Linked DNA regions of Homo sapiens. The protein of the gene in region 5 interacts with the protein of the main gene of each other region in a biochemical or structural test. Each region holds a gene or a part of one and is shown on either strand. Other genes may lie near its edges. The genes, in order: OR10G3, ABCA7, LPAR1, SHKBP1, TJP1, ATP2B1 and PRR16.

What was found.
Region 1: the proteins of TJP1 (region 5) and OR10G3 interact in a test that uses a peptide from one of them, tested with the Homo sapiens proteins (one large-scale study listed by IntAct).
Region 2: the proteins of TJP1 (region 5) and ABCA7 interact in a test that uses a peptide from one of them, tested with the Homo sapiens proteins (one large-scale study listed by IntAct).
Region 3: the proteins of TJP1 (region 5) and LPAR1 interact in a test that uses a peptide from one of them, tested with the Homo sapiens proteins (one large-scale study listed by IntAct).
Region 4: the proteins of TJP1 (region 5) and SHKBP1 interact in a test that uses a peptide from one of them, tested with the Homo sapiens proteins (one large-scale study listed by IntAct).
Region 6: the proteins of TJP1 (region 5) and ATP2B1 interact in a test that uses a peptide from one of them, tested with the Homo sapiens proteins (one large-scale study listed by IntAct).
Region 7: the proteins of TJP1 (region 5) and PRR16 interact in a test that uses a peptide from one of them, tested with the Homo sapiens proteins (one large-scale study listed by IntAct).

The regions. Positions count from the first base shown.
Region 1 is NC_000014.9:21,577,277-21,581,226, forward strand, and holds the start of OR10G3 (olfactory receptor 10G3), read right to left. Parts: upstream 2,801-3,950; 5' UTR 2,510-2,800; intron 1-2,509. UniProt on the Homo sapiens protein: Odorant receptor.
Region 2 is NC_000019.10:1,057,107-1,060,606, reverse strand, and holds part of ABCA7 (phospholipid-transporting ATPase ABCA7), read right to left. Parts: intron 3,294-3,500; coding exon 3,178-3,293; intron 2,742-3,177; coding exon of another isoform or gene 2,693-2,741; coding exon 2,548-2,692; intron 2,462-2,547; coding exon 2,338-2,461; intron 1,990-2,337; coding exon 1,860-1,989; intron 1,788-1,859; coding exon 1,667-1,787; intron 1,585-1,666; coding exon 1,522-1,584; intron 1-1,521. UniProt on the Homo sapiens protein: Catalyzes the translocation of specific phospholipids from the cytoplasmic to the extracellular/lumenal leaflet of membrane coupled to the hydrolysis of ATP. Transports preferentially phosphatidylserine over phosphatidylcholine.
Region 3 is NC_000009.12:110,937,471-110,940,970, forward strand, and holds part of LPAR1 (lysophosphatidic acid receptor 1), read right to left. Parts: exon of another isoform or gene 2,442-3,500; intron 1-2,441.
Region 4 is NC_000019.10:40,583,373-40,586,872, forward strand, and holds part of SHKBP1 (SH3KBP1-binding protein 1), read left to right. Parts: intron 1-25; coding exon 26-113; intron 114-228; coding exon 229-345; intron 346-3,371; coding exon of another isoform or gene 3,372-3,401; coding exon 3,402-3,500.
Region 5 is NC_000015.10:29,717,969-29,721,468, forward strand, and holds part of TJP1 (tight junction protein 1), read right to left. Parts: intron 2,741-3,500; coding exon 2,390-2,740; intron 2,049-2,389; coding exon 1,809-2,048; intron 1,171-1,808; coding exon 298-1,170; intron 151-297; coding exon 53-150; intron 1-52. UniProt on the Homo sapiens protein: TJP1, TJP2, and TJP3 are closely related scaffolding proteins that link tight junction (TJ) transmembrane proteins such as claudins, junctional adhesion molecules, and occludin to the actin cytoskeleton.
Region 6 is NC_000012.12:89,587,549-89,590,693, forward strand, and holds the end of ATP2B1 (plasma membrane calcium-transporting ATPase 1), read right to left. Parts: 3' UTR 501-3,145; downstream 1-500. UniProt on the Homo sapiens protein: Catalyzes the hydrolysis of ATP coupled with the transport of calcium from the cytoplasm to the extracellular space thereby maintaining intracellular calcium homeostasis.
Region 7 is NC_000005.10:120,684,300-120,687,814, reverse strand, and holds the end of PRR16 (protein Largen), read right to left. Parts: intron 1,862-3,515; coding exon 1,106-1,861; 3' UTR 501-1,105; downstream 1-500. UniProt on the Homo sapiens protein: Regulator of cell size that promotes cell size increase independently of mTOR and Hippo signaling pathways. Acts by stimulating the translation of specific mRNAs, including those encoding proteins affecting mitochondrial functions.

The DNA.
Region 1 (3,950 bases), on a different chromosome or scaffold from region 5:
TGAAACCTCCGGGGACCAGAGTGATAAAAAGTCATAGAATAATGGTGGCATTTTGCACCTGTGTAGTGTTTTTTAATCCTTAGAGGTTAAATGGCAGAGGAGTCTCACAGCTGTATAATGCTGGAGTAAAGGCTCCAACCAGATTGTGTTGTTCCTAGTCCAGCACTCTTTCCACATTTTACTGAAAATTCCTTCCCACAAGGAACCAAATCAAAATAATGTAGTAAATCATGTGAACTGAATCACAATTTTAAGAGTTTTATGGTTCATTCTGTCAAGGATTCTAAACTGGTGTTACTACCCTATTTCAAAATTGAGACATAGTGGAGTTAAGAGCAAGTTCTAAAATCAAACTAGAGTGAAGTTTAGTTACAATGAATTCATGAAGTTGCCCGACTTCTTTCATTGACAATCTATCACACTGAGTGTTTCTTAAAAAAGCCCGAGGGAGGCCGGGCGCGGTGGCTCACGCCTGTAATCCCAGCATTTTGGGAGGCCGAGGCGGGCAGATCACCTGAGGTCGGGTGATCAGCCTGACCAACGTGAAGAAACCCCGTCTCTACTAAAAATACAAAATTAGTGTGGTGTGGTGGCACATGCCTGTAATCCCAGCTACTCAGGAGGCTGAGGCAGGAGAATCGCTGGAACCTGGGAGGCTGAGATTACAGTGAACTGAGAGCACACCATTGCGTTCCAGTCTGGGCAACAAGAGCAAAACTCCAACTCAAAAAAAAAGAAAAAAGCCTGAAGGCTTAGTAGTGTTTTTATTTCACAGATACTTAGTCTTTGAATATATTGATTAAATGTGTTTTTGAATTCTCATCTGATATCAAATATTAAAGACCATCTAGAGGCCGGTCGCGGTGGCTCATGCCCGTAATCCTAACACTTTGGGAGGCCAAGGCTGGTGGATCACCTGATGTCAGGAGTTTGAGACCAGTGTGGCCAACATGGTGAAACCTCGTCTCTACTAAAAATACAAAAATTAGCTGGGCATAGTGGTATGAGCCTGTAATCCCAGCTACACAGGAGGCTGAGGCAGGAGAGTAGCTTGAACCCGGAAGGCAGAGGTTGCAGTGACTTGAGATCGTGCGATTGCACTCCAGCCTGGGCAACAAGAATGAAACTCCATCTCAAAATAAATAAATAAATAATAAATAAACAAAATAAAATAAAGACCATCTAGTACATGAATGTTTGAAAAATATATGAGAAATATTAGGGGACCACAAACTAAATAAAAGTGTATAATTTTGAGCAACCAAGGAGATTAGACATCTTTTCTAATGAGGCGAAGGGCACAGGCTTAACCTCATTTCAGCAAATGAATTTTACTTAATTCTGGTCCCAAACTGTATCCCTAACCCATCTTTCAAATGGCCATGAAGAAAACTTTAAAAATTTTATTATTTTCTGAAAATCGACTCAAAGCACACTTTTTTATTTATAAAAAGCATTTCAAATATTTGGAAAACTAATATAATTAATTTCTTTTTAAAATAAATTTCACAATAAGACATATAAAATGGAAAATAATTTAAAGATGAATAACAATGGAACAAATATATACATATATAATATGAGAAAAGTTTGAGTTATTAAATTGAGAGACATGAGACAATTTCTATTAAAATGTAAAACCCTTATTAGCAATGAGTTAGAATTGTCTGTTTAAAATATTTGCCAACAAAGAAATCAGGTTATAGCTTTACTCATGTCCATTTTTCAAATTTTGGGCAGAGAACTTGTCTTATAGGTGGAAGGGACCTGGTGAGGACAAAAAGAACAGAGCAAGGGTGGCACCACCACAGAACTCGAAGATGCTCTTCCTAGTCTGGTTGGTATTAAAACCAGTGAATGGACTTTTAATGGAGAATAGCTTTGGAGAAAAATTTAGCCAATTAAAGGCCTGGGGGAAATAGTGTTATCCAATATTAGCCACTATTTTTTAATTTTTTAATTTTTTTAATTTTAATTTTTATTTTTGAGATGGAGTCTCTCTCTGTTGCCCAGGCTGGAATGCAGTTGTGCCATCTTGGCTCACTGCAACCTCCATCTCTCAGGTTCAAGTGATTCTCCTGCCTCAGCCTCCCAAGTAGCTGGGATTACAGGCGTGTACCACCACCCCCAGCTAATTTTTGTATTTTTAGTAGAGATGGGGTTTTACCATGTTGGTTAGGCTGGTCTTGAACTCCTGACCTCAGGTGATCCGCCCGTCTTGGCATCCCAAAGTGCTGGGATTACAGGTGTGAGCCAACATGCTTGGCCTATTAGCCACTATTTATAAAAAGGCTAAATGGTAGTTACATAGTCATATGAGCAGAACAGCAAAGAAAATTTTTGTGACAGCAGAAAAAGAACTATACTGAGTAACTAAACAAGTAAGAATATTGAGAGATGAAGTGACTCAGAGTAGAGAAACCCCTTACACAATGTTTGGACTTAACATTTATCTCTGAAAAATGGGATTAGAACAGTGGCAGGTGCTATTTTGAGAAGAGGAACTCACCTGAAGGTGTCAGCATCCATCAAAAACTCTTCTTGCAGACGGAGAGAAAGGATACAAATCTATTCCTAAGGAATCTTGAATATCTCATAGGTCAGCAGCAATTATTGTGAAGAGCTCGTGGCAGAAGACCCAACTAATTACTTTTGGCTGGATCAAAGTAAAGAGTCAAACTATGGAAACTTAATTTATTATTTGCCTGCTTATTTGTAGAGATATCTGCTTCCAGCTTCCTTATGAACTGGGGGAGGAGCTGTGGCTCTTACTGAAGATAACTGTTAAGGTTGGTCTCTCCTGTGTTCTACTACTTCTTCTATTTCCCTCAGAGTCAGTTTTTATGTGTGAGACCTTTAGCTTGGGGAATATTGTAATAGCACTCCTGTGATAGGCAAGACCAATATCCATAGTTTGTTTCCTAGGAGACTCTCTGGGTTTCTAGCTTTTTCCAATTTTGTAACAGCAGGTGCGACAAAGTCTGTGGGGCTTAACAGGTCTCGTTGAAATCTTCAGATCTGTGGTTTTCTTTCTGTTCCAAAGCAAATTTGGAAAAAAAGAGAAGAAAAAGCTAACATGGTTGTTACTTGGCAAGAGATGTGTTCTTATTGGTGCATTCACATTTTAAGAAATTCACACTTTGAATTACTAAGGTGCTAACATAGACCTTCACAGACTAGAAGAAACAGAATTTCAGGGTTGGAGGGACATTAGAGGTCATCTGATCCAACTATCATCTGTAATGTTTTAAGTCAAGCTCCCTGAACAGTGATTTTTCTTTTTTAATTTTACAATTTTATTTATTTATTTATTTTTTGAGACAGGGTCTTGCTCTGTCGCTCAGGCTGGAGTGCAGCGACGTGATCACGGCTCACTGCAGCCTCATCCTCCTAGGCTCAAGCGATTCTTCCACCTCAGCCTCCCAAGTGGCTGGGACTACAGGCACATACCACCACACCTGACTAATTTTTAAATTTTTCGTAGAGACGAGGTCTCACTAGATTGCTCAGGCTGGTCTTGAACTCCTGGGCTCAAGTGATCCTCCTCCCTCTACCTCCCAAAATGCTGGGACTACAGGTGCAAGCCACTGCCCCCGGCCTGTTATTTTTCTTAGTATTTCTTGGTCTTGTTTCCTTGAATACTTTGAATTTGGTCTAACTTATTTTCTTCTAGACTTAAATTTGGTGTTGTCGCAACATTTTTCCCAACTGTCTTCAAATGTCCAGAGATGGTCTGTGTTGTAAAAGAACATCTTGAATATGGTTTAGTTTTATTATTTTTTCCACCAAACTTTTGTGGAGGTCTCTGTAGCTTCCAAGCCACAATTGTGTTAAAGTGTCTAAAGCAGAGGAAAGCACACTTTCTCTCTAAAGAGGCAGATAATAAATGTTTTTGGCCTTGAGGACCATACAGTCTCTGTTGCAGCTACTCAACTCTGCCATTGTATGGG
Region 2 (3,500 bases), on a different chromosome or scaffold from region 5:
CAGAGGTTGCAGTGAGCCGAGATCGTGACACTGCACTCCAGCCTGGGTGGCAGAGCGAGACTTTGTCTCAAAAAAAAAAAAAAAGAAAAAAACAAAGGCCGGGCATGGTGGCTCACACATGTGATCCCAGAACTTTCGGAGGCCAAGGTGGGTGGATCATTTGAGGTCAGGAGTGCAAGACCAGCCTGGCCAACATGGTGAAACCCCGTCTCTACTAAAAATACAAAATCAGCTGGGCATGGCGGCATGTGCCTGTGGTCCCAGCTACTCGGGAGGCTGAGGCTGGAGAATCGCTTGAACCTGGGAGGCGGAGGTTACCGTGAGCCAAGATTACACCATTGCACACCAAGCTGGGTGACAGTGAGACTCCATCTCAAAAGAAAAAAAAAGAAAAAAAAATATATATATATACTGCAATGTGTGCTAACAAACAGCACTTGTTTGCAGATGTGTACCAGCCCTAGTAGGTGGCCAATAAGTGGCACACAGCAAATACATTTGTATATAGTAGGTGCTTGAATGTGAACTGGTACAAAGCAGGTGCCTGATAAATGCTGGCTGTGAGCAAGTGCTTGATGTAGATGTGTATACAATAGGGGTCCAATAAATTCTATTGGTATTTGATAAACGTTGATGGACACAAAAGTATTCAGTACACCTCTTTAGTGAGCACAGTGTGTGTTTAACAGAGGTAAGCATGCAGTAGGTGCTTAATGAGGTTTTGTTGGCTCAAGATAAATGCACAGGCCAGACGCAGTGGCTCACGCCTGTAATCCCAGCACTTTGGGAGGCTGAGGCGGGTGGATCATGAGGTCAGGAGATCGAGACCATCCTGGCTAATATGGTGAAGCCCTGTCTCTACTAAAAATACAAAAATTAGCCAGGCGTGATGGCAGGCGCCTGCAGTCCCAGCTACCTGGGAGGCTGAGGCAGGAAAATGGTGTGAACCCGGGAGGTGGAGCTTGTAGTGAGCCGAGATCTCACCACTGCACTCCAGCCTGGGCGACAGAGTGAGACTCCGTCTCTAAAAAAAGATAAAATAGGGCAGGTGTGGTGGCTCACGCTTGTAATCCCAGCACTCTGGGAGGCTGAGGCGGGTGGATCACGAGGTCAGGAGATGGAGACCATCCTGGCTAACACGGTGAAACCCCGTCTCTGCTAAAAATACAAAAAAATTAGCCGGGCGTGGTGGTGGGCGCCTGCAGTCCCAGCTACTCGGGAGGCTGAGGCAGGAGAATGGCATGAACCCGGGAGGTGGAGCTTGCAGTGAGCTGAGATCCCACCACTGCACTCCAGCCTGGGAGACAGAGTGAGACTCCATCTCAAATAAATAAATAAATAAATAAATAAATAAATAATAATATAATAAAATAAAAATAGGAGCACAAATATTGGCATACAGTAGGTGCCCAATAAAAGGTGGTGGATACACAGTAGGTGTTCAGTAAAGGATGATGGGCAGGGCATGCAGTAGGGCAGCCACTCACTGTCCCTGCACCTGGCCTCCACCCCTGGACTCACCTCACCAGGGGGAATCCCCAGGCACAAGCGGTCAACAGCTGGCATCCTCTGCCCACGGTATACCTGGGAGAGTGCAGGTCTTTCAGAAAGGTGAGTGGGCCAGTGGGAGCACCCCCCACCCAGCAGTCGACCTGACCACACCTACCTTGGTCAAGTTCCTCAGCACCAACACATCCCCCTGGGTGGCTCCTTGGACCACCCGCTCCCGTTCACGGGCTACATCCTCGTCCTCCTCTCCCAGGAGTGGCAGAGACCTCACCCTGGGCCTGGGGACAGAATATCTGTGGGCTTAAAGTAGGTCCTTGGCCCCTGCCACCCTCTCCATAGACCTCACTAACTGTGGCAGGAGTTGGCTTCGGTGCTGCAGCAGTAGTGTGAAGAGAAGGAAGAGGGGCCCCTGTATCACCATGGCCAAGAGGTTCTTGCCGACCACCTCCCAGCGCAGGGGTGACTGGAACTGCCTGTCTCCTGTGGATATAGAAAGGAGGGACTGGGTCCATGAGAGTCTTGGTTTCTGGCCCTTTCTCCATCCATGTCACTCTGGATTCTTAAGGGAAAGGAACACAAATTGGATAGGCCACTCAGCTGGAGTCTAATTGGCATAGAAAACAGAAGAGGCCTCTTGTGATGTAATCTAAGAATTAGCTTTTTATGGCTGCTTTCTTGTACCTCCAACTTGGCCCAACCTTAGGGCCACCTAAGAACCCTGGCTGTCTCCCTGGGGGGCTGTTTTTCTCCACTCTGTATAATTAACTCTAGGTCTCCAAGGGTGCTAGCTATCTGTAGCCATGGCCCCACCTGACAGGAAGTTCTCACCCAAGCGCTCAAAGGCATCAGCCATGGCCTGGTTCCGCACCATGTCAATGAGCCCCCGGCCCAAGCAGAAGTGGGGGAAGATAAGGAAGACCTGTTTCAAGATCCGGCTCACCTCCTGCAGCTTCTGCTCAAGGGTGGGAGACGGATGTTGGTCAGGGGCTGAGTCCAACGACCCAACCCAGCCCAAGCCCCAGCCTCGTGGTGCCCCACCTGATCAGAGAAGAGCTCAAGCACAAAGGTGGCCATGCTTCCATTGATGCCAATAAAGAGGTTTATGCAGGTGAGCACCACATAGGCTGTGCTGGGCACGGAGAAGAAGAAGGAGGCTGGGTACATGAGCGGTGTGATCGACCAGCTGAAGGGACAATAGGAGTCACTGGAGTAACCACTCAGACTGAGAAGCCCTGAGAGGAATAAAAATCTCCATTCCCATCTTCTCTGCCTTAGACCTTGACATTTTCACCCAAAGCACATTTCTGTTTTTTTTTTTTTCTTTCTCTCTTTCTCTTTCTCTCTCTTTCTTTCTTTTTTAGAGGTGGGTCTCTCTATGTTTCCCAGGCTGGTCTCAAACTCCTGGCCACAAGCAGTCCTCCTGCCTCGGCCTCCCAAAGTACTGGAATTACAGGCATGGGCTGCCTTAGAACTCTACTAATATGAGTCAGGATAAGATGAGCTTTTAAGGCCACCTTGGCACACCACTGAATTGGATCACACACGGCATCACCTCAGACCTCCATATCCTCTCCTTGGGAGTCACTGCAGAGTTCTATCTCAGCAGCATTAATGTGGAAGGCAGTAAGGGGTCAGTAAGAATAGGCCCTGAGGGACTGGGGGCCTCACCCATACAGTAGTAGCAACAGCAGGAGAGCAGGCAGGTTGGCAGGGGCCACATATGCCCTCTGCTGGAAGGCCAGAAAGATGAGCACCACGATGCATGCTGGCACCAAGTAGTTACACTGCATTGGAGATGGCAGTTACCTTTATCAGCCTAAAGAGGTGGGCACTGCCACCCTCAGCCCTGTTCCCACCCTGACCTCCTTGCTTTTTGAGTAGGAAGGCACAAAGTCTCCCACAATCCTCAAGACTTTACCCAGGCCATCTTGGACAAGCCCCTGCCTACAAGGGGCCAGACAGGGCAGTGGCAAGCAGTGGCTGGGCCCCCA
Region 3 (3,500 bases), on a different chromosome or scaffold from region 5:
ACCTAACCTCTCCTTACCTCAGTTTTTATCAACTGGAAAATAAGGATAACAAATCAATAACAGTACCTATACGCCATAGGGTTGTAATTTACAAATACTAATTTCTAAGGTAGCACATGATTTATGCCAAATAAGTATTTCACAACTAAAAATAATTATTAAGATCCAGTACTCACTCAAAAGCAGCTTAATACAAGATCATGCTTAAAAACCAGCCATTGGTATTGCCCATTATTAATCTCAAAGATGACTTTATTTTAATATAACTTGACTCATAACAAGTCAGTTGCTGACCAACAAATTCTTCTTTTGATCATGAAGACTGAATAGGTCTAAAACCCAGGGATCATTTTGATGAAGTGAAAATGGAAACTGAGTAATCATTCCCAGAATAAATGGAAGTAAAACAAACATATTATTTACTGAGCACCCATTGTAGCCAGGAGTTTTCCAGGCTGTTGTATTTTAGAAGGCATAGAACATAAAGGTGTCGCTAGGTTTGGCTCCCACATAGCTGAATAAAGTGGCATTTACTGTAGTGAATTCACTACGGCTCTGGTCTTCAGTTTTGAAGGCAGAGAAACTTGGTTTTGTCATCACATGCATTCCCTCAGCATTTATTGACTACCTACTTTGTACCAGATAGCCGTGACAGGCAATGTGGCAACGTGGAGAAAACAAACAATCATTACAATCCTGCCTGCCCTCACAAACCTGGCAATCTGGCAGTGAAGACAAATACTAAAAACCAAATGTACACAAACTAAAGTAAAATAACCAGATTATCAATGGACTAATTTACAAAGAGAAGAACTTCGAGTAGACCAGAATTCTTGTTCCTACTGAAGTGGGAGACCAGCAGGACTTGTTTTCACAACGCTGCTGATCAAAACAGGATGTAGCAAAGAAACCAATCCAAACCAGCAAGGACCAGGAATCATAATACATTTGCATTAGACATTCCTACCAGCACCATGACGGTTTACAAATGCAATGGCAATGACTTGGAAGTTAACCTTACATGGTTTCAGGAACTCCCCACCCCTTTTCCAGGAAGTTCATGAATAACCTGTTTAATTATATTTAGCATTAAGAGTGGGGGCCCAGGCATGGTGGCTTATGCCTGCAATCCCAGCATTTTGGGAGGCCAAGGCAGGAAGATCACTGGAACCCAGAAGCTCAAGACCAGCCTGGGCAACATGACAAAACCCCATCTCTACAAAAAAAAAAGAAAAAAGAAAAAAAAAAATCTGGGTAGCTGGGTGTGGTGGTATGCACCTGTAATCTCAGCTAATTGAGAGGCTGAAGTGGGAGAACTGCTGGAGCCTAGGAGGTCCAGGCTACAATGAGCCAAGATCATGCCACTGCACTCCAGCCTGGGTGATACAGCAAGACCCTGTCTCAAAGAAAAAGAAAAAAGAATGGGTATAAATATAACTAGCCAGCAATCCATTAGTGCTGTTCTGTGCTACCCTGCCTATGAGATAGCCCTGCTCTGCCTTTGGAGTGGTCACTTGGCTGTACACTGTTACGCTAACAAACTTGCTTTCTTTCACTGTTGGTTCACTCTTGAATTCTTTCCTGGGCAGAGCCAAGAACTCCCCCAGGCTGAGCCCCAATTTTGGGGTTTGCCTACATTATGACAAGACCAACCCATGTCTCCCATGTAACCGTGCCTATCTAAGGATGGACACTTACAATTCAAATAGGGGAGCATACTGTAGGAATGGCATTAGGCACCACGCCTTGAAAAACATCTGTTAGGATTGTGACTTCCCCATTCTAAACTTTCCAACCACTCCCTGCCCACATCCTGCCCATTCTCTTATTCTTGCTACTTTTCTCAAAAAGGCTACGGTCCATTTAATTTCTGTTTCCTATATTACAATCTTATTCCCATCTTTCTTCACCAAATACCTTCACCTATCACCGTGACGGGGTTTTCCATGTTCTGAAAGTTCTTCCATCTCACAGCTTTAAAAATCATGCTCTTTATTCCAGAGATGTCAACTGCATTCGATCTTTGTGGAGTATACTAGTTTAAATATTATTTCTGTTATTTTAAAGTTAGTGGTTGTGCAGTGGTAGTAGTTGGGCATGGGAAAGTGGCATTTAGGGCAAATGTACACTGAAACACTAGCTCCTATAGCCTCAAAATGATTATTTCAACCTGAAAAACAACCCAAAGAGGCACAAAAGTATGTGAATCATTCAGTACATTGCACACTGGAATACACAAGATATTATACAAAGGTCAAAATTAAAACAAGAACTTGGCAGGTTAATAGTCCAAGTTCAGTAGTCATTTGCTGCTGGCAATTCTGCAAACTATGAGTAGCACTTGTCGTAATAGAAAAAGTTCATGCATATAAAAAATGTCAACCAACATTTAGGTCATCAGCAAATAAATATTTGAGTCAATACAGGAAAAAAGTCTCATGTTATTTAATGTCTCATGTTTTATTTCATACAAAAATAGCATCCATGGTAAACAAAGATGTGTTTTATCCACATCATGGAAAATGTGGCCTTGTGGCACAGGTGTGCTTAAGGTCCTGTTAATAAACATACAGAGAAACCATTTTTGTAGTTCTACTAATCTTCATTGGATGCAATAAGACAATCTCATATCTGAGGTGATGGGGTCCTCAGTGTTTCAGTTAGTTAGGCAGGGTTTTAGGTGTGTCAGTGATCCCAAGGCTTAGTTGCTATTCTCACAGGTCTACAAGAGGGTCAACAATGAGTATAGCTGAAAATGATGTCCATGATGCAGTCATCCTAACCAAAACAGACGAGACCTATGCATCAATCTGAATACTACTTTATATAATGATCAGCAGGACCCTGTCTCCTTCCAGTGGCTAAAATTAAGGTAATTCCCAGAGTTTCAGAGGAGCCACATAATCCCATGTTACATTCACCCAAAAATGCTATATAAATTGGAGCACAGAGAATTATAGGAACTTTCCATTGAATTTCTGTGGGGAAAGAGGAGGTGATAAAATGTTTTTTTTCAATTTCCATAGGGAAAGATGAAATGATAAAAGGTTTTCAAAAAAGATTTTTTAATGTGATCAAACGTTAACCTGAATATAGTCTATGGAGAATGTATAATTCCATTGGGTAATTATTTTAAAAAACTCTCACTCTACTCTCAGCTCCAAAGGAAATGTCTGTATCTGTCCTTTTCATGGAGCCAGCACAGAGCGTAGAACATAGTAGGTGCTCTTTAACTACCTTCTACACACATAAGTGAATATATTCTTCTTGATCACTACTATGAATTTTTCATCCAAGAAAAACAATGCTTATTTAAAAGCAGAAGGTATTTGAGTCTACAAATCTTGCTCTTCACCTTGAAATATGAATTAACCTCCACTACTACAAATAGAAAATTAATAGAAAATAAGGAAGTTTTCATGAAGATGACTGTCAGAGAATATCATTAATTCCAATCTGTTTTGTTCAGTAAATCTATATAAAACCTTGATATACTACCT
Region 4 (3,500 bases), on a different chromosome or scaffold from region 5:
GCAGCCTGTCCTGCCCCACCCCCAGGTCCAGGAGGTGCAGCCCATCACCAGTTATGACGCGGCAGGCTCCTTCCTCCTCCTGGGCTGCAACAACGGCTCCATTTACTACGTGGGTGAGCAGCAGCCTGTGTCCCGGGTGCCCGAGACCCTCCCCTGGGAGAGGGGAAGGGAGGGAGAGAGGCTGGGGCACTTGGAACAAACCCGCTCCACCCTCCCTGCCCACCCCAGATGTGCAGAAGTTCCCCTTGCGCATGAAAGACAACGACCTCCTTGTCAGCGAGCTCTATCGGGACCCAGCGGAGGATGGGGTCACCGCCCTCAGTGTCTACCTCACCCCCAAGACCAGTAAGCTATGACCCGGCTTCCCCTGCTGCTGTCACCTGCCAGCCCCAGCCCCAGCCTGCAGCTGTCCCCCAACTTGTGTAGCATGACCCAGAGGGGTTTATCGAGGGGCGGCAGATTCAACTCTCTCTCATTTTTTTTTCTGAGACAGACTCTCATTCTGTTGCCCAGGCTGGAGTGCAGTGGTGCAATCTTGGCTCACTGCAACCTCCACCTCCTGAGTTCAAGCGATTCTCCTGCCTCAGCCTCCCAAGTAGCTAGGATTACAGGCGCCCACTGCCACGCCTGGCTAATTTTTGTAGTTTTAGTAGAGATGGGGTTTCACCATGTTGGCCAGGCTGGTCTTGAACTCCTGACCTCAGATGATCCTCCCGCCTCAGCCCCCCAAAGTACTGGGATTACAGACGTGAGCCACCGCGCCCAGCCAGATTCAACTCTCATCCAGTCATTCAACAAATATTTACTGAGTATCCCTGTATATAAGCACGTTCTAGGTGCTAGATGGTGGCCACCCTCTCCACTAGGGGCAGAATGGACCATTAGGAGTTAATCTTTGTGTTTCTTTCCCACCTTTGTGATTAAGGCATGATGTTCACATGTTCATAAAACAACACAGATGCAGGTTTTACAGCAGATGAACCTGAGTTCTCTTACTTGAGACAGTTTTTTGTTTTGTTTTCTTGACATCAAATGCAGAATGGGTTAATTTTTGAGACGTAATTCTCATACCATAAAATTTCCCATTTGAACGTGCACAATTCAGCGGATTTTAGTATATTCACAAGGTTGTACAACTATCACCATGAACAAATTCCAGAGTATGTTCATCACCCCCGTAAGAAACCCCCTGATCTTTAGCAGTAACTCCACATTTCTCACTTCTGATACCCTCTAGAAATCACTAATATGCTTTCTCTTTTTGTTTGAGACAAGGTCTCGCTCTGCTGCCCAGGCTGGAGTGCAGTGGCATGATCTCAGCTCACTGCAATCTCTGCCTCTTGGGTTCAAGCGATTCTCATGCCTCAGCTTCCTGAGTAGGGGAGGATTACAGGTGTGCATCACCATGCCTGGCTAATTTTTCTACTTTAAGTAGAGACTGGGTTACGCCACGTTGGCCAGGCTCAATATGCTTCCTATACCTATGGATTTGCCTGTTCTGGACAATTCCTGTAAATGGGATCATACATTATATGGTCTTTTGTGTCTGCATTTTTCACTTAGCATATTTTTTTAAATGGTTAGTGTTTTCTGGGTCTTAAGATATCCTTACCTATTCTAGGTTACAAAGATCTTCTCCTGAATTTCTTCTAGAAGATTTACAGTTTAGTTTTTACATGGAAGTCTGTTCTATCAGAAATTAAATTTTATGTATGGTGTGAAGCAGGGATTATTCTTTTTTAAAAAAAAATAGAGACAGGGTCTTGCTCTGTTGCCCAGGCTAGAGTGCAGTGGCATGATGTGAGTTCTCTGCCACCTCCGCCACTCGGGCTCAAGCGATTCTTCTACCTCAACCTCCTGAACAGCAGAACCACAGGCATGCATCACCACACCTGTCTAATTTTTGTATTTTTTTGTAGAGACAGGGTTTTGCCATGTTGCCCAGGCTACTCTTGAACTCCTGGGCTCAAGTGATCCTCACACTTTGGCCTCCAAAGTGCTGGAAATACAGACTTGAGTCACTGTGCTTGGCCATAGCTGCTGCTGCTGCTTTTCTTTTTTTTTTAAAGCAGAAATAAGTTAATAATACACCTAACTTCATGACACATTATCACCTTTCTTCTTTGTAAGGCCCTTTTCTTATTTCTTTTTTTTCTTTCTTTCTTTTTTTTTTTTTTTGTCTTTTCCTGAGACAGAGTATCGCTCTGTCATTCAACCCAGGCTGGAGTGCAATGGCGCAATCTCAGCTCACTACAACCTCTGCCTCCTGGGTTCAAGCAATTCTCCAGACTCAGCCTCCCAAGTAGCTGGGATTACGGGTGCCTGCCACCATGCCCAGCTAATTTTTGTGTTTTTAGTAGAGGCAGGGTTTTGCCACGTTGGCTAAGCAAGTTTTGAACTCCTGGGATTCTCCTCTCGTCGTCTCCCAAAGTGCTGGAATTACAGGCATGGGCTGCTGCACCCGGCCTCTTTCTTATTTCACTTACTTACTCATTTCCTCCTCATCTCCCTTCCCGCCACATGCCACTATTATGTCATTTTTCTTTGTTTTTTGAGACAGTCTCGCTTCGTCACCTAGGCTGGAGTGCAGTGGCGCAATCATAGCTCACTGCAGCCTCACCCCCTGGGCTCAAGTGATCCTCCTACTTCAGCCTCTTGAGTAGCTGGGATCATAGGTGAATGCCATCACACCCAACTAGTTTTTTAAAAATCTTTTGTAGAGATGAGGGTCTCACTATGTTGCCCAGGCTGGCCTCAAACGCCTGGCCTCAAGCAATCTTCCTGCCTCGGCCTCTGTTCTCTGTTTTACTTTCTCTTTCCTCTCTTATTTGCTGTTTCACTGTTACAATTTCTGTCTCTGGGCCTCTCCTCCTTTGACCTGTGCCTTTGTCTCCCTGTTCCTCCATTTCCCACATCTCATCACCATCTTTTTGTGTCCTTCCCTCTCTCCTTGCTTTCTGACTGTGTCTCTGTTCTGTGTCTCTTTCTTTCTTTCTTTCTTTTTTTTTTTTTGAGACAGAGTCACATTCTGTCATGCAGGCTGGAGTGCAGTGGCGTGGTCTTGGCTCATTGCAACCTCTGCCTCCTGGGTTCAAGCAATTCTCATGCCTCAGCCTTCTGAGTAGCTGGGATTACAGGTGCGTACTACCACCACCAGCTAATTTTTGTATTTTTACTAGAGACAGGGTTTCAGCACGTTGGCCAGGCTGGTCTTGAACGCCTGACCTCAAGCGATCCACCCGCCTCAGCTTCCCAAAGTGATGGGATTACGGCGTGAGCCACCGTGCCCGGCCTCTCCTTGCTTTCTGACTGTGTCTCTGTTCTGTGCCTGTTTCTTTCTCCCTGCCCTGGTTTCTGTCTCTGTGGCCCAGGCCCTCTCCTCATCCTTGGCCCCTCACCAGGTGACAGTGGGAACTGGATCGAGATCGCCTATGGCACCAGCTCAGGGGGCGTGCGGGTCATCGTGCAGCACCCGGAGACTGTGGGCTCGGGGCCTCAGC
Region 5 (3,500 bases):
GGGTTAAATTCCTGGTCAGTTCTATGCCACAAAGAGCACAAAGTGTACTCACCTGTACAGAGTTTTGTCATGTTCACTGAATTGATTCTGAGAAGTGGGTTTGGGACCAATGATGGGAGCACCTGAAGGTTTAGATGCTACTTCTGGAGGCTGTTTAAAAAAAAAAAAAAAAAAAAGACAAATATGCCTAAGGAACAGATAATTAACAGAATAGATATCATGTAATGGCGGAGGGGAGAGCCAAGAAGCCTTTTAAACGGTGTGCCCATGCATCCAAGGCACTAAAGACATATTTACCTTAAAACTGCCAGTGTCATTTACATCCTTCTTGGTCTCTAAGGATGCAGATCTTTTGTTTTCAAACATCTTAACTCTGGTGAGTACAGACTGTGGCTTCATTGCTGGATCTTCCTCTTCTTCGGTTTGAGTTGGGGGTGGAGGCAGTGGTTTGGTGTTTGAAGGCAGAGCTTCTGGCTTATGCTGAGATGAAGGTATCAGCGGAGGGACAGCTGCAGCACCATGGAGAGGCTCAAAATGACCTGCTCTAGAGGTAAATCCTTGGGGTGGTACTTGCTCGTAACTGCGTGAATATTGCTCAAAATACTGCTTGGACTCTGCAGGCTTGGGCCCTGCTGAAGGGTGGGGCTGGGCTTCCGGTCTGAGTCTACCATGTGTGTCATACCCAGGAGCTGGCTGCTCTTCGTGCCGCAGGGCGGATGCTCTAGGTGCCTGTTCGTAACGTGGTCTGCTGTCGTAAGACAGAGGGGCTGGCTCTTCAAAACGTGGAAAGTACCCTCGTTCTGAGGACTCTTCGGGATGCTGTCTGGAGTCAAGGTCTTGAGAGTGCTGATTATCAAAAGGTGGCCGAGATGGGTAGGGCTGTTTGTCATCATAATATGACCACTGTTCTTCATACATGGGGACGCGATCTTCGTATCGCAGACGATGTTCATAGTTTCGAGAAAACTGGTCCGTATAGCTTGAGGACTCGTATCTGTATGTGGGCTGCTCGAGGTCTCTGCTGGCTTGTTTCTCTACGTATGGGAGTTGGGGTTCATAGGTCAGATTAGGCTCTTTGTCTGGCCTGTGCCCTGGGTGACTAACGGCTGGCTGTTTCAAAACATGGTTCTGCCTCATCATTTCCTCGGGATATGGATCCTTTCTATACACCTGTATAAAAAATTCACATTTAAGGACAAAGTCTTGTTTCTAATTCTAGTCTATTTTATTAGACTGTGATTAAATATTAAACTACGATTTAATATGTGAAAATGGTATGTTTTACCATTTATTATCAGGATAGACAAGATTAGTGGAAAAAGCTGGTTTAAGTGAAAGCTCAAAATTTATAATGCAGGTAGGGGCTTTTATGTTTCAGCATGTACTAAATAAACAGTGAGTTAAAGATAAATATTAAATTTAGTAGAAAATTAATGCACTATTGATTACACTTCATTTTGACACTGAAAAATCCTAAAGAAGATTTATGGGCATCATAATTTGTATTAACATAAATATGTTTATGATGGGTTTCGATTACATATTAAGGAATTCTGGAAGATACTGAAAGCCAAAAATAAAAATAATAAGCACAAATCTCAATTAAAAGGCCTGTTTTCAAATAATCAGTATACCAATGGAAGCCATGCAAACTACGAAACTGAAATGATTTGTATTGATTTGAAAGCATTACAGTGTATAAGCCTGCAGTAAAAAAGCAAAAGGAACACTTAAAGGGCAAAGCAAAAATGATCATGTGCCAGATTGATGGACAGCAACAAATTAGTGCAACACCGCAGCACAGGTACCTTTGTTGGATCTACATGCGACGACAATGATGGTTCTTGATCTCTTAGCATTATGTGAGCTGCCTCAGTACTTGGTGTTCTTAAAGAATCAGCTTGTGGTGAGTAAGAGGTGGAAGGAGCTGGGGTGGGCTCCTCCAGTCTGACATTAGTTAAATTTACATTATGATTAACAGCAGAGGTTGATGATGCTGGGTTTGTTTCAGGCGAAAGGTAAGGGACTGGAGATGAAGCTTCTGCTTTCTGTGAAGTGTTTAAAATATTTTAAATATAGTGTTTCTGTTTACTGCTAACTTTCCACTTCAATTTATAGTGATTGGTAGACATACATTTTAAGTGTGCTGAATAACAAAATTATGACCTCATGTCCTAAACTTTTTGGGAAAAAAAAAAAATCCAGTACATTGCTGTGTTAAGACAAACACACAAAATTTAGAATTAAGCCCTTGGTACTCTCAAATTGAAATTGAAGATTAATTCTTAATCTGGAGAAAGGACAACATATATATTTTTAACTCAATCACCACATTCTAAAATTTAATAATGCACCTCTATCTACAAAACGTTGAATGCTTGCTGCTTACCTGTTGAGAGGCTGGCTTAAATCCAGGGGAGTCTATTCTATGAATTGGTTGTGGCTGCGCTTGTGGTGAGTAAGGAGGATATGTTTGGTTTTCATGATGCATTCCAGAGGAGTCCTCTCTTACAGGCTCAGAGGACCGTGTAATGGCAGACTCCGGTGGAGTCCCAACCTCATCATTAAGAGTTTCATCTAGTTCTTGATCAGTGTAGGCCCCGCCTTCTGTGTCTGTGTCTTCATAGTCAGAAGTGTGTCTACTGTCCGTGCTATACATTGAGTATTCACTACCTGGAGCTGACAGGTAGGACAGACGATCATCATGCAAATCAAGGTCATCACTTGTAGCACCATCCGCCTGGGTCAAATAAAAGTAAATTACAAATTTTATTCAGTAGTTCTTTAAGAGATGGCCTTTATCGTACAAGGCAGATTGAAAAGGATATCTTTCTCTGGAGAAGTCACATCTACTTCTTGAAACTTCTGGTAAGGAAAAGTCAAGAAGATTGTACAAGCACACACGCAGACACATGGAGCACCCCTTGAGATCTGAAGGGCATGGATGAAGGAAACAGTGGCCGGTAAGCCAGGACAAAGTTAGACTCCAGGGCCCAGCCCTGGAAGACAACGAAGAAACTCTGACACTGCTCAGATTTATAAAACCTACTCACTAGCTCTTCAGCCCTTTTAAGCAAGGGGAAGAGGGAGAATGTTACCAAACTAAGCTCACAGAAACAAGGACACACTGACAGAATAGCACATGGAAGAATACCTATGAAATAAACCCAACAGTTCAAAAGTTGAATAAGAGCTAATATATTTATGTTTAGGAAACAACTGATATGGTTTGGATTTGTGTTCCCACCCAAATCTCATGTTGAATTGTAATCCCCAGTGTTGGGGGAGGGGCCTGGTGGGAGGTGACTGGATCATGGGGGTGGTTTCTAATGGTTTAGCACCATCTCCCTCACACAGTCTTGTGATAGAATTCTCCCAAGATCTGTTTTTTTAAGTGTGCAGCACCTCCCCAACTCTCTTCCTCCTGCTCCAGCCATATAAGACATGCTTCCTTCCCCTTCCGCCACGATTGTAAGTTGCCTGAGGCCTCCCCAGAAGCA
Region 6 (3,145 bases), on a different chromosome or scaffold from region 5:
AATAATTTACTAATGATTTATACTAACTGAAAAATATGGTATTCATCATCATTTAAAGTTTACTCAGTATTTCAACAAAGTTGCTAGTTTATATTAATAACTTATTATAAAAAACAACTATGGATAATTTTATTAATTTTTACCATAGAGTTCAGATAACTGGTATTGACAAGTATGGATAATGAAATAAAAATAAGCTCTTACAGCTAATGTGAAAAACTAATCTGTACTAAAACCAGCAGATTACATTCCCATAGACTGCAGAAATGATCTATTGTGCTATAAGGGTTGAGGACAGTGGGTTGGAGAGTAGGGACAATGTACCCACTCTCATTTTAGAGGCAAGATCATGCATATTATTAGAAGAGTGATTCACTGTAACACAACCATAACATTTCAAGTACATTATAGAATTTTCAATTAGATTTCTAAAATTTCAAGTAGAAAAAATTCCAAAATATTTTCAAATCAATATCAATATCCAAAAAGTTCAGTCCCCATTCAGAAACAGATAAACAGTATATTTATTAAATGAGTTAAGACAAATAAACTTTACAAATAGACAAATAATAAAAGGCTCAGTGGCTAAAATAGATGGTAAGCATCATTGAAAGAAATCAACACCATCACGGTATCTCAGTTGGCTTACACGTGTAAAAAGAAATTTTCAAAGAGCAATTTCACAGAAATGAAGCCAGTTTTTTTCTTATAAACAAATCACCAATTCTTGGTTCAAAACTGACATCTGTTATGAAAATTACCATATCACATATTTGTAAGATGACAAGGAGTAACTCATCTTCAAAGTGCAAGTAAGTCTATTTACAACCACAAAAAAGGCAATGATGAGGAGAAAAGGATTTTTAAAAAATATACAAAGATTAAAAACATTTGGGATGCAAAATTAAACAATTTTTTGGTTAGAGGATAAAAGAGAAAAAGTGATTGAATTACAGATTTCAGCTATACATACTATATAATGGGATCCAAGATCTTTAACAGCTTGCTTGCATTTTTTTCTACCTACATAATGCTCTGGAAATTTCTGGTAGAAATTACAGTGTCTCAAAGAGAGAAATACACACTAAGCATGTCTTGCTACTACTTCATAGATGTCATAAGACCCGTTTATGGATTAGAGTTGGTGTAGAAAGCCATTGCCTTGAGTTGAAAAATGAATACTGTAAAAGCTCAATACAAATCCTCCAAAGCACATGCACTTCTAAATCTTTTGGTAATTACATTCATATTTAAGCATAACCAAAATAAAAAAGAAAACTGAAAACATTTCCCTTTTCTCTATTCCCTATGCCTTGTGGGCTCTCCAGTTGATAGGGTCAATTTTTAGAGTTGAAAGGGTTCTTCAAGATAGTCCACCACCCTTATTTAGGGTAAATGATTTTCCCAAGATCATGCAGCACATTAATGGCAAAACCAAGACTAGAAACCAGGTCTTGACTCCTAGTCTAATATGCTTTCCAGCATATCATGCTACCTCTTTTTTACAGTATGATTCACTATAAATACCTGATGAATAAATGTACAATTACAAATGCTGACAGAGCCAATGTGTTTCTAAGACCTGCAGAGGATTACTGCAAAGATTTGATGGTGAGAAAAAGATTTCCCCCACCCACCAAAAATATCAAGCACCATCAACTAAATGTTTCTTTGCTTGGTCAGCACTCTCAGTTATAGTAGCAGTCCTCGTAAACTTTATGTCAGCCTGAGGATTGTGTATCTGGTGAAATCTGGGCCCTAACACATGCCAGTTTCTAAAGGGTAAAGACAGAGGCAAAAAAGAGAAGAAGGTAGATGAAGGAAAGAAAAAGAGAGCTAAAGAATCCAATTGGCTTAGAGGTGGGCATTCTAGCATATGGTTAATTATTGCATCTAAATATATCATTTTAGAACCTTTTCATGTAATCTCATTTTACCTAATCTGTTATTTGGCCACTTAAGAATTAAAATAAATGTATCAAAGACAATGGTGGTCATTGTTGTTATGTTTTTTACCTGTGAGACTATTTTAGACAAACTAAATTCAATGAAGAGTATGTCAAATGGTAAAATTGTGTTAATTTTCTTAATCTGATTCTATTAGATTACCAGCAAGGAATTAAAGCGGTACTTCATGGGGCTGTTACCATCTTGAAATGTATTCCAATTGTGGTCAAAGAGAACAGACTGATGCACTGTATATGCAGAACTGAGTAAAGAAGCTGAAATGTCTTTTAAAAAAACATTGCCATGAATTTATTTAATAAAAGGGCATATTTATTTATGTTTACAAACAAGTTTCAAAAACAAAAGGAAAACATGTATGCTTCTACTTATTAACCTTTTTCAAAATGCCAACAGCCCTCATGCTGTGTGAAGGTCTCTAAAGATTAGAAAAATCAATACAGTTCACTCACAGTTCACCAAGACATCACTAAACTAACATGTTTAGACAAAAACAAAAAAGACTAAGGTTCTCTTGTAGTTTGATAGTCTGATTTAATTTGATTTGCCTGAAATAACAAAAGCATTTCAAGCATCTTTCATTATGTAGTTGATGTCCTGCATTAAACAATCTACTAAATTCTGAACAAAAGGTTATTAGCAAGTTTTCAAAAATTTTAAAAATTAAACAGTTGCTTCAAAACCATTAAGTAGTAAATGTATTTAAGAAACTAATTAGGACAGATGTCATAACTTCATTAGAACACCACTGCTCATGTTTTTTTGTTTTGTTTTGTTTTTTTCGTTTTTTTAAACAAAGCATTAGTGTTATCTATTTGGCTATTAGTATTAGCAATTTATCTACAATATTTAACAAGGTAAATTGTAGGCAAAAATTTAGTACAGTTTCAATAGAAACACCCCTTTTTTTTTTTTTCCTGAAAATACAGCAGTATTTGAAGGACTAATTTTTCTCTGCATCAGTTATAAGGAAGCTTCCCATCTATGAACAGGAACAAAAAAAGTATCTACAAACCTTGTAAACAGATCTGTATCATTTATAAACATAAATAATCCAAATTATTAACAGCCAACAGCAGAAATTAAACTATCAATTCAACGATCCAGGGCTCTTTGTCTTGCCCAGTTTTACTCCTCCCTCTCTCTCCCATCCAGGACTGAGATAAACTAAAGCTCTGCT
Region 7 (3,515 bases), on a different chromosome or scaffold from region 5:
TTATTTGATGTTAGAAGGAAAGATTTCTTCTCTTTCTTTTAGAAGACAGCAACGGCCCATGGTATCTTTCAACTCTGAGGGGGAAAAACTTACGCCAAATGCTGAACACATCCTGATACCAGAAGCATTCAGATATCCCCCTATAATTCTCCTATAAATGTGGGTCCACTTGGGGAGGCAGAGAGCTTGCTAATGCAGGAGGCAAAACACCCTACAGCCTCAATGTAATAGTTTAGGGTACATCCTGGAAGAATGCTGAGTATGAGGAGGGCTTGGCAACATAGGGAGAGTTCAACAGAAGGCTCTTGAAGTACCAAATGGAAGTATAAAATATGTAGTGTGTAGATTTTGATTTATGATGTGGAATATGATATTTCATTTAGAAAATTCTGATATACACTCACTGTAACTTCTCCAAACTCTGTCAGATTTGCTGCCCATATTGAGGAATGTTAAGTGAGATTAAATGAACCACTACTTCATTTTAATTCTGAGGAACATTTGCTTTTGTCATTATTTACTATTGTTTATTGATTTAACAATATTTCCACAGACCAAAGTATTTTATTACATATATAGCTGAGCATGTAATTCATAATTGTATAATATAGAAAATAAACTTCTTGGTATTGGCCTCAGCATTTAATAATGAAAAACTAGTGACAAACATCTTTAGAAAAAAATAATAAAATAGTCCTTCAGTATTAAAATTTCCTAGTAAAAAGCATTAGATCAAAGTTAAGAATATGACATGTTAATGCATAGATGACTTAGGCATAAATAAAATGAATCAAATCCCAGCTCTTATAGTAAATCAAAATAGGTGAAATCTGCAGGTTCACAGTTTGTCATAGGTCAATTGCAAAAACAATGCATCATTCATATTTTTCATCATTCTGAGGTTTTTAATGATACAACATTTAAAATAATGCATACCCAGGATATAAGCAATGTGCTGCATACTTACCAGGTGATTTTTATGCCACTTTGCTGAATGCAGGATTAATATATTTGGGCTTTTTATTGCTTGAGTAGAAAGTGCTCATTACTTATTTTATGTTTATAATATAGAAAATTAAAAAAACAATTTTTTTAATGGCATACATCACACGGTTGTAGTGGTTGACTTCCTCAAGATCGTCTTCTGTGGTTTTGGTGCAGTGGGAGGAGGCACAGTTGCAGGTCTGATAGGGGGGAAGCTGTTACTGTGGCTTATTCCCATTCCCCCATTTTCTAGTGGGAAAGGAGGGAGATGGGGTGTAGGAGGGAGGGGAGGGCCTTGGTGAGGAATCTTTCCCGGTGGGTGGACAGGTTCACTGTGTAAGTGGACCTCCCTGTTTTTTATGTTATACCGGGTATCACAGTCAGGACAATAGCCATGGTACTGTACTTTTTCATTAAACCGAACTCGTTCTCGAGGCCCTGCCTGGGGACATCTGTCTTTTTCAGGTCTATGCATCAGAAGCTGGACTGGAGCCTTGTCCAAGTTACTGTTGGGTATGCAGCAGATATCTCCATTTGGAATTTTGTTAGGTCCACCTGGTAAGCCTCCATTTCGTAGAAGGGTGCCATTGGTTTTTACAGGATTGGCAGTTGGAACCACCCTTTTGGGGTCTTCACACTTCACAGGTGTCAACCTTGGAGGAGGTGGTGGAGGGTTTGGCTTTCTCAGGACCGTGAGGATAGCAGACGGGTGTGCTGGGGGTTTAATAAGCGGTGCATTAGCCTGCACTTTGATCTTCTCTAGGCTGGAGGCTGTTGTGCCACTTGAGCTACTATTCAGCGTGTCCGTTTTGGAGCTGTCAGTCATCTCATCCTCCAGCTGTAGGTCAGAGGTCAGGGTGTCAATCTGGTCAACCACCTAGTGGAAAGGACAAGGTAATTGTTTTGAAGAATGACCCAAACAAAGTATACTAGAAACAATTTATTTTTGTCTAGGGGAAATCTGCTATGGAAGCCTTAACTGATATTGAACTGAACATTCCATTGCTGCTTGATGTTTTCAGTCAATAAATTTACAGAATAGTGACCATCACACAGAGGACCAACTGTATGATAATATAATTTAACATGCTTAGAACATAACATATGATTTATATATACATTCTATTTCTGACTCTGATATACCCACCCATAAAATATGAAACCTGATGCAGGAATATAACTGATTTTTAAAAATAATCAGAGGGCATTTCCCTTCTGCTTAACATGCAGAAAGCTGTAGGAGAACATTGCTTCCAATCTTGAAATTAAAAAAAAAGATAATCTGCAAAATCATAATTTTCTTGAGACCAACAGAGACTTGACCTCACAAGGCAACCAAATGAACTCAACTGTTGAGAGTTTCAAGCCCTCTGAGGATATACAGAAAACATCAACTGTTCAACCTTTAGAAAATCACAGGAAAAAAAGGCAGCAACCATCAGAGTGAATGAAGAAAGCAACTAAAACTTTGATGACTAATTAAAGGTTGAATATGTGCTATTATGACAATTTAGAATCCTTGGGAGTCTCAGACACAGTATCATCTGTACTCACTCATGGCCTCCTTTACACAGACCTCTCATGCTGAGAGGAGGAAAGAGATGGAAGAGAGCCCCTGGTGGGCACACAGGCACAAAACCCCATTTACTTCTCAGACTGTTCTCCCTTATAAAGCAGAACCTTTACTGGTGCAGTAGCAAGAAACCCTCCAACCTGTAAGACACAGGCAAAGATATTTTGCTTCTGAGAGAGGGTAGAAGCAAAAGCTGTCTCGCCTTGGAGAAAGGGAAAGAAAATTATCTGGGCCCAGGACCCTAAACTAATACAAAGCAGATGTTTACTATCACTGGGTGAATGACAGGAAGTCACACCAGTCAAGGGCTACTACAGGTACCAGGCAGAGGAGCCAGGGACTCAGATAAGGCTGGCAGAGGCATCAGAGCATAAGACAGGTGGGAACCCACGTTAAGGAGAGAGGTTGTGAAGATAGGAACATTGAATGGAAGTATCTTAGACAATGCAGTTCTAAGGAGACTTTGGCAAGGATACTGGGGAGTCTGACATCTCCCATAACAGGGCAACCTTACTGTCTCTGCCCTGTTCAGTCATTGGCTGGGAGCAGCAGTGTGGTCACTGCTCAAATGCTGACTTTCAGAGTACAGCATCAGGGTCCTCAGTCATTTACACTCTGCATTCAGAGGTCTTGGAGGCCATTCTCATAGCCACCATACCTGCACTGTTATACACATATGAGAATGGAAAAGTTATGGATTGTTTTAAAAATAGTTTATGTAAGGAGACAGTTCCTTCATTTCACACATTTCCATCACATTTATTCCATATGGAGATTTTTCCCTCCTCTCTTACTTAGGTCTAAGTTTAATCAACTGTGAAGTTGGCTCTTTGTCACATGGTGGCAGGATTGGGCTCAAAATGAAAACACCAAAAGCATCTAGACGTTGGACAGGATATAGACTTTACTTCCTCCTCATGAGGCTCTTAAGTGATTGATTCCACCAGGCAGGTAAAGG